Regions from separate parts of the Homo sapiens genome. Here region 2 is linked to region 1. A link means that fine-mapping ties the variant in region 1 to the expression of a gene that starts in the linked region. Tissue or cell type: tibial nerve. Region 1 holds a variant in brackets; the other region holds the start of a gene. All regions are shown on one strand. Distances are between the middles of the regions.

Region 1 (2,680 bases):
AGTCAAACAACCCAGGAAGAAGACTTCTCTATAGCTATCTTTATACTTTATATTAATCTTTTTCTTTGTATTTTATGTTCATCTTCTTCTTCCTGAAATGAGAAGGGAAGGAAAATAGAATTCTAGAAATAACCTTACAGCTGCCCTTCACTCTATGGAAAAAGTGAGCTCTTGACAGGAAAGGGGTTCTATCCATGATCTTACAATTCCTAAACAGCAACAGCATCATGGACGTATTTGTTCCTGGCGTCATAAGCCTGCATACGGTAGGCATTCAGTTAATAGGTACTGATTGGTCTAACAGAGGAAGCTGGGCTTGATTATAAAATAAACTAGGCTATGAAATCATGCCTCCTAAAAGCTCATTAAAGGCAGCAACACGGGATGGGGACTGTAAGGAAGTTGTCTCCCACCTGCCTCCCTCCTCAGACACACATCATTCCGCAGATGTGAAAACGACCCAGACTCTGCCCGCATGTGGCCTCCCGGACCGGGCAGTAGGGCCTTGCCCCTACCCTCATGAAGACTGTCGGCTGTGTTACAGAACTGCTGCTCTGTCTCTGACTCCCCTCACTCCCATGCTCTGTTGGAAACTCAAGTTGTGAAACCACAAAACACAGAAAGGAAGTGGTCAACTATTGCACATACTCAAGCTATGTAGTCTCAGTTTATTCCATTCTTGCAGGATCATTGTAGGAAGGCATAAGAGTCCTGCTTACTGGTGAGCCACTGAACACAAACTCCCTTCTCACCTCTGCCTTGGATCCCGCCATGCCTGAGGTCTAGGGCTAGAAGCGTTGTTTCATCCACATTAATTCCGGTCTTGGGCAACGTGGCTATTTTCTGACCTGTCTGTCTTCCCACCCTAGTGGTGAATTCTCTTTCTGGGATCTCAACTCCTTCTCCTGTCACCCAGCTTTTTCCGAGCAACCCCAGTCCATCTGGCATATCATTAGAATGTTAAACCTAAAACGGTAAGCCATTCTGTGAATACCTTTAAGTAACAGGATATTAAAATGAGACTTTTCCTGTTTTCTCAGTGCTAGCTGACATCTTTGAGCTGAGAAAAAAAAATATTGTTAAAAATGCTCATCTATTCTCAGGAGATGTCATCTGCTAAGGAGTGACCAAAAAAATGGTCCAATAACCCTGAAACCATCGCTCAAATCTTAGCTACGCAAGGGGAGACTTGTAAATTAATGAGGACGGCAAGGATTTCATGAGACAGAGCTTTCAGGCTGCTAAAATGCTTCCTCCTCCCTTCTCATGTGTTTTCCCCTCATCTTACGCAAATAAGAGGGGGCCTTCAGAGAATTACTTGGAGAGCTGACCTAGGACCCCTAGGCTTTGGGGAACATAGAATGTATTAGTGTCTATTGCTGCTGAAACAAATTAGCACACATTTAACAGCTTAAAAATAGCAAAATTACTACCTCACAGTTCTGTAGGTTAGAAGTCCAGTGGGCGCGGCTGGTGTGTGGGCTTCAAGCCTCACAGGGCTGAAATCAAGGTGTTGGCCAGGCTGTACTCCCTCCTAGAGGCTCTAATGAAGCATCTGTTTCCAGGC[C/T]TCTGCGCCTTGTTGGCGGAATTCAGTTCAATTTGCCTGATGGACTGAGGTCCCTGCTTCCCTGCGGGCTGTCGGCGGGAACTGCCACTGGCTCCTTGCAGCCTCTCTCTGATTCTTGCACAAGGGCACCTACATCTCAGAGCCAGCGAGAGTGTGAGTGTGTGGAATCCTTCTCACGAGGCCTCATCTCTCTGACTTTCGTCGGGAAATGTTCTCTGCTTTTAAAGGATCATGTAATTATTTTGAGCCTACCCGATAATCCAGGATAATCCCCTCATCTAAAAATCTGTTACCTTAACCACATCTGCAAAGTCCCTGTTGCCGTGTAATGTAAGCTATTCACAGGTTCTGGGGATTAGGAAAAGGACATCTTTGGTGGGGGCCTTATTCAGCCTACCACATAGAGATTAGTACCTGAAAAGCCAGCAGGTGAGAAGCTAGACAGAGCAGCCGGTGGCAGCTAAAGGAGAAAGGGGGCGAGAGCTGGAGAAGTCGCACTTCCGCCGATGGCGCAGCAAAGGGGATGTTGCCCTGGAGGACTCAGGGAACGGAACTGGGCTATCAGCCGAGAATGGGGCTCCACTCAAAAGGAGGAACCAACAGGAGACACAAGGAACCCCAGCAGGAAGAAGTCGGAGATGGAGGAGGGGAAGTCATAGCTGGAGGAGACGTGTGTTAGGAAGCTACAATGGCAGCTCCCTAGTGGAGGTGTTTCGGAAAAACTCCGAAGATTCCACTTGAGAAAATCATCGGCCTTCAGACAACGTCTATGCCAGATAATGCTACCAAATCACAACCTTGCCTTTCCTCCCTACTGCTGTTCTGATGTGGGAGGACCCAAAGGCAGCAGAAGAGCCAAAGAAGAGTAGCAGAAAGGTAAGTTTGGCTGTCATGCCCTGGCACACCTTGCTGCTACCCTGCAGCTCCCTGCCACCTGGCCATGCACTGCTTCCCCTCCACACCCTGCTGAGGCAGGTCTGGGCTGGGGACACAGGAAGCTTTGATGTTAGACTGAACTGGACCTTCAAGATCTCAAAACACAAAGTATTTGTTAGTAACTGAAAGGTGGCATAAATGTTAGATCAACCTAGGATTTTATCACCAAATAAGGAA
Region 2 (2,680 bases), 630 kb before region 1:
GGAAAAAAAAAATCACCGAAGGGAAAGACAAATAACAACTCTCGTCCCTCCTCCTCAGCGTCAAGAAAAGGTGGGGATCGCAAAATTACCGTTAAGTTGTCCGGGTAAAGACTTTTGGGGGAGGAAAACATTAATAGTTTCACAGATTGCTTTTTTCCTTGCGACATGTTTCAAACACCGGAGAAGAAAAAAGTCTTCTAAGAAAGTGCGACTCGGAGGAAATAGCCACGAGAAGGAAATCGTTAGCTCGAAGCCCCATCTTTCATCTCACCCGTGAACACTCCTCCCCTTTGAGAAAGGACAACGCTGCGAGAGCAAATGACAAAAATCCCCAGAAAGAAGCTAAAGTCCAGCATCTTTCCTAAGAGCCCGCTACAACCTCAAAAGCCTGCCCCTGCCCCATCTTGGAAGCGCGAGCCGCGGCCAGTCCTACCTACCTAGAGACCTCACCGGGACCCAGCGCGCCGGGGGAGGGCAGCCAGGGCTTGGGAAACTCTTTCCTGGGGCACCTCACGCTTCAGCGTCAAAAGACAATATAGATAGATGGGTGCCGGGCGGTGGCGGGGGGGACTGTTGCCACGACCCACCGGAGGGACCCATGACTCCGGGTCCTGAATTTTCTGTCGACCTTAAGTTTCTTGTCACGAGATGACGGCCATCACCGGGTCGAGAAAACGGCGAGAAAAGGCGGCCCGGTTCGGAAATGGGGGAGGGGCGCGCGTCCAGTCCTCCTGTCAAGGAGCGGCCGCCTGCAGAGACCCCGCAGTGCGCCGTCCCCGGCTCCGGTCCCGGGCGGGGGGTCTTGCTGACAGATCCGCTGGGCGGCGGCTGCTCCGCCGCAGCCGGTCCGCGTCCCGCTCAAACTGCAGCTCCCCTCCCCCCACAGCCCCGTCTCTCCGCGCTCCCGCCACATTCCGCCCGCCGCCGCCCACTCGCAGACGCCCAAGTTGCCCCTAACCCTACTTCCTCGGATTTTTCGCGATTAAGTGAGAGTAGACCCCGCGCCCACTCCCTGCACCCACCACTGCCTGCGGGTCCCACCACTGCCACCTCCCGAGTCCCGCTCTGCTACTTCTTCAGGCTCTTACCGACTGCGCCAGCCTTGGCGAAGCTCCGCCGACTGCCCTTTGCTCCAAGTAATTTTTGGCGATTTTTAAAGTAATTTTTCCGGCGGAGTCATAGTGGCGCTATACTCTCGGACAGGTTATCCTGTCTCTCCCGCTAGATTGATGAGATCAGGCATCACTCGAAAATGGCGCCGAAAGCGCTGAGGCTCCTCATTCAAATTCGTTAGAGCCAACCCCGCCGCCCCAGGGAATGCCGGGAACGCGGGCTGCCTCCACAGCTGTCAATACCGCCTCTTAACCCCCCTTCTCTTGCTTTCCCGACATTTTTACGCATGCGCAAACTCCAACCCTCCCCCCTCCTCCCGCCAGGCACATGCGCAGAATCATCGTGGTGCACGGCTCTCCCTTTGCTTCTTCGGTTGCAGTCCTCTTGCTTCTTGCGCGTGCGTGTAGCGCTTTTGCAAAGCCGCGGAGGTGAAGTGAACTTAGAGGTTGTGGGGCCGAGGGGTCGTCTTATAGCTACCAGCCCACAGGCATTTAGTCTACGTTGGAGGTAAACAAATACGGGTCCTGCTTAGGAGAAAAGAAAAACGTCTTACAGCCAGTGTCTAAACTCCAAACAACGGAATGTATCAATGAGACCTTGTATATGGATACACGTGCATTTAAAACCGCCCTGCCGGCTTGTAGAGCTTTTGCCGTTCTCCAGCGCTTTACAGGGGTTATCGCACTTAAGCCTCGGAACAACTTTACCAGGTAGGAACTATTACTGTTCTCGTTTTGAAGACCAGGAAACCTAGGCTCAGAGACGTTAAGTAATTTGCCCAAGACAGCACAGGTGGCACAGAAGTGGATGAATCCACATCTGTCAGATTCAGCAGCCCTGGAGTTCTCTACCACGCTGTACGATTCAACCTGAGCCCACACAGGAGGCGTGGTCTCCTTCTTCAACGGTGTGTGTGTGTGTGCGCGCGCGCCTGCCTAGAGTTAATGATTAAGTTTGCTGAAGCCCTTCTTCCCGGTCCTAAGCTGCCTGTTGCGAAGGCGCTTTCATTGAATTCAGTTTCTCTTACCGTCTTAACTTGTTCATAAACTTTTTGAGATAGGAATGGGCAGTTTTTCTGTGTCACTTAGGATGATTTTTTTTTTTAATGGCGTGATAAGTGAACTGAATCCAGCAAAGACGAGTTTCTGTTGTGCAACACGTTGGTATACTGACAGCTACCACGTATTGACTGTGTACTGTGTGCTGGGCACTGTGCTAAATAAATGATTTACGAATTAATCGTGTTTATTGCTCACAACAGCCTTATGAAGTAGGTATTATCTTCACTTTACAGATGAGGACACCTGAGGTTCAGATTAAGAAATCTGCCCCAAAGTCTTAGAACTGGTAAGTAGAAGCACCATATCTAGGCAAACCTGTCTACCTTCAAAAAAAATGGGCACTCTGATAGGACAATTAACGATAATAAAGTTGTAATTTTTTTTTTTTTTTGAGACGGAGCCTCGCTCTGTCGCCAGGCTGGAGTGCAGTGGCGCGATCTCGGCTCACTGCAGCCTCCGCCTCCCGGGTTCAAGCAATTCTCCTGCCTCAGCCTCCCGAGTAGCTG

Direction of the effects. Alleles are on the strand shown, and positions count from the first base shown. SD is a standard deviation of normalised expression in the study named.
For the expression in tibial nerve of the gene that starts at base 1,435 in region 2, allele C in region 1 goes with a higher level than allele T (small effect, 0.26 SD a copy in GTEx).

Evidence for each region. PIP is the estimated chance that this variant, and not a neighbour inherited with it, causes the effect.
Region 2: DLEU1 starts here. The variant in region 1 is fine-mapped to the expression of DLEU1 in tibial nerve (GTEx, PIP 0.96).

The regions. Positions count from the first base shown.
Region 1 is chr13:50,713,445-50,716,124 of GRCh38, forward strand. It overlaps a transcript of DLEU7 not described here. Among named protein-coding and RNA genes, the nearest start is that of DLEU7-AS1, 93 kb to the right of the region's middle. The variant C/T (reference allele first, on the strand shown) is at 1,568.
Region 2 is chr13:50,080,735-50,083,414 of GRCh38, forward strand. It overlaps DLEU1 (deleted in lymphocytic leukemia 1), which reads left to right and starts at 1,435. Exons shown (of 7, transcript NR_109974.1): 1 at 1,435-1,823; 2 at 2,408-2,460. The region is part of intron 1 of DLEU2 (deleted in lymphocytic leukemia 2); the gene reads right to left. RefSeq lists silencers at 579-873, 737-956, 1,357-1,406 and an enhancer at 1,564-2,359.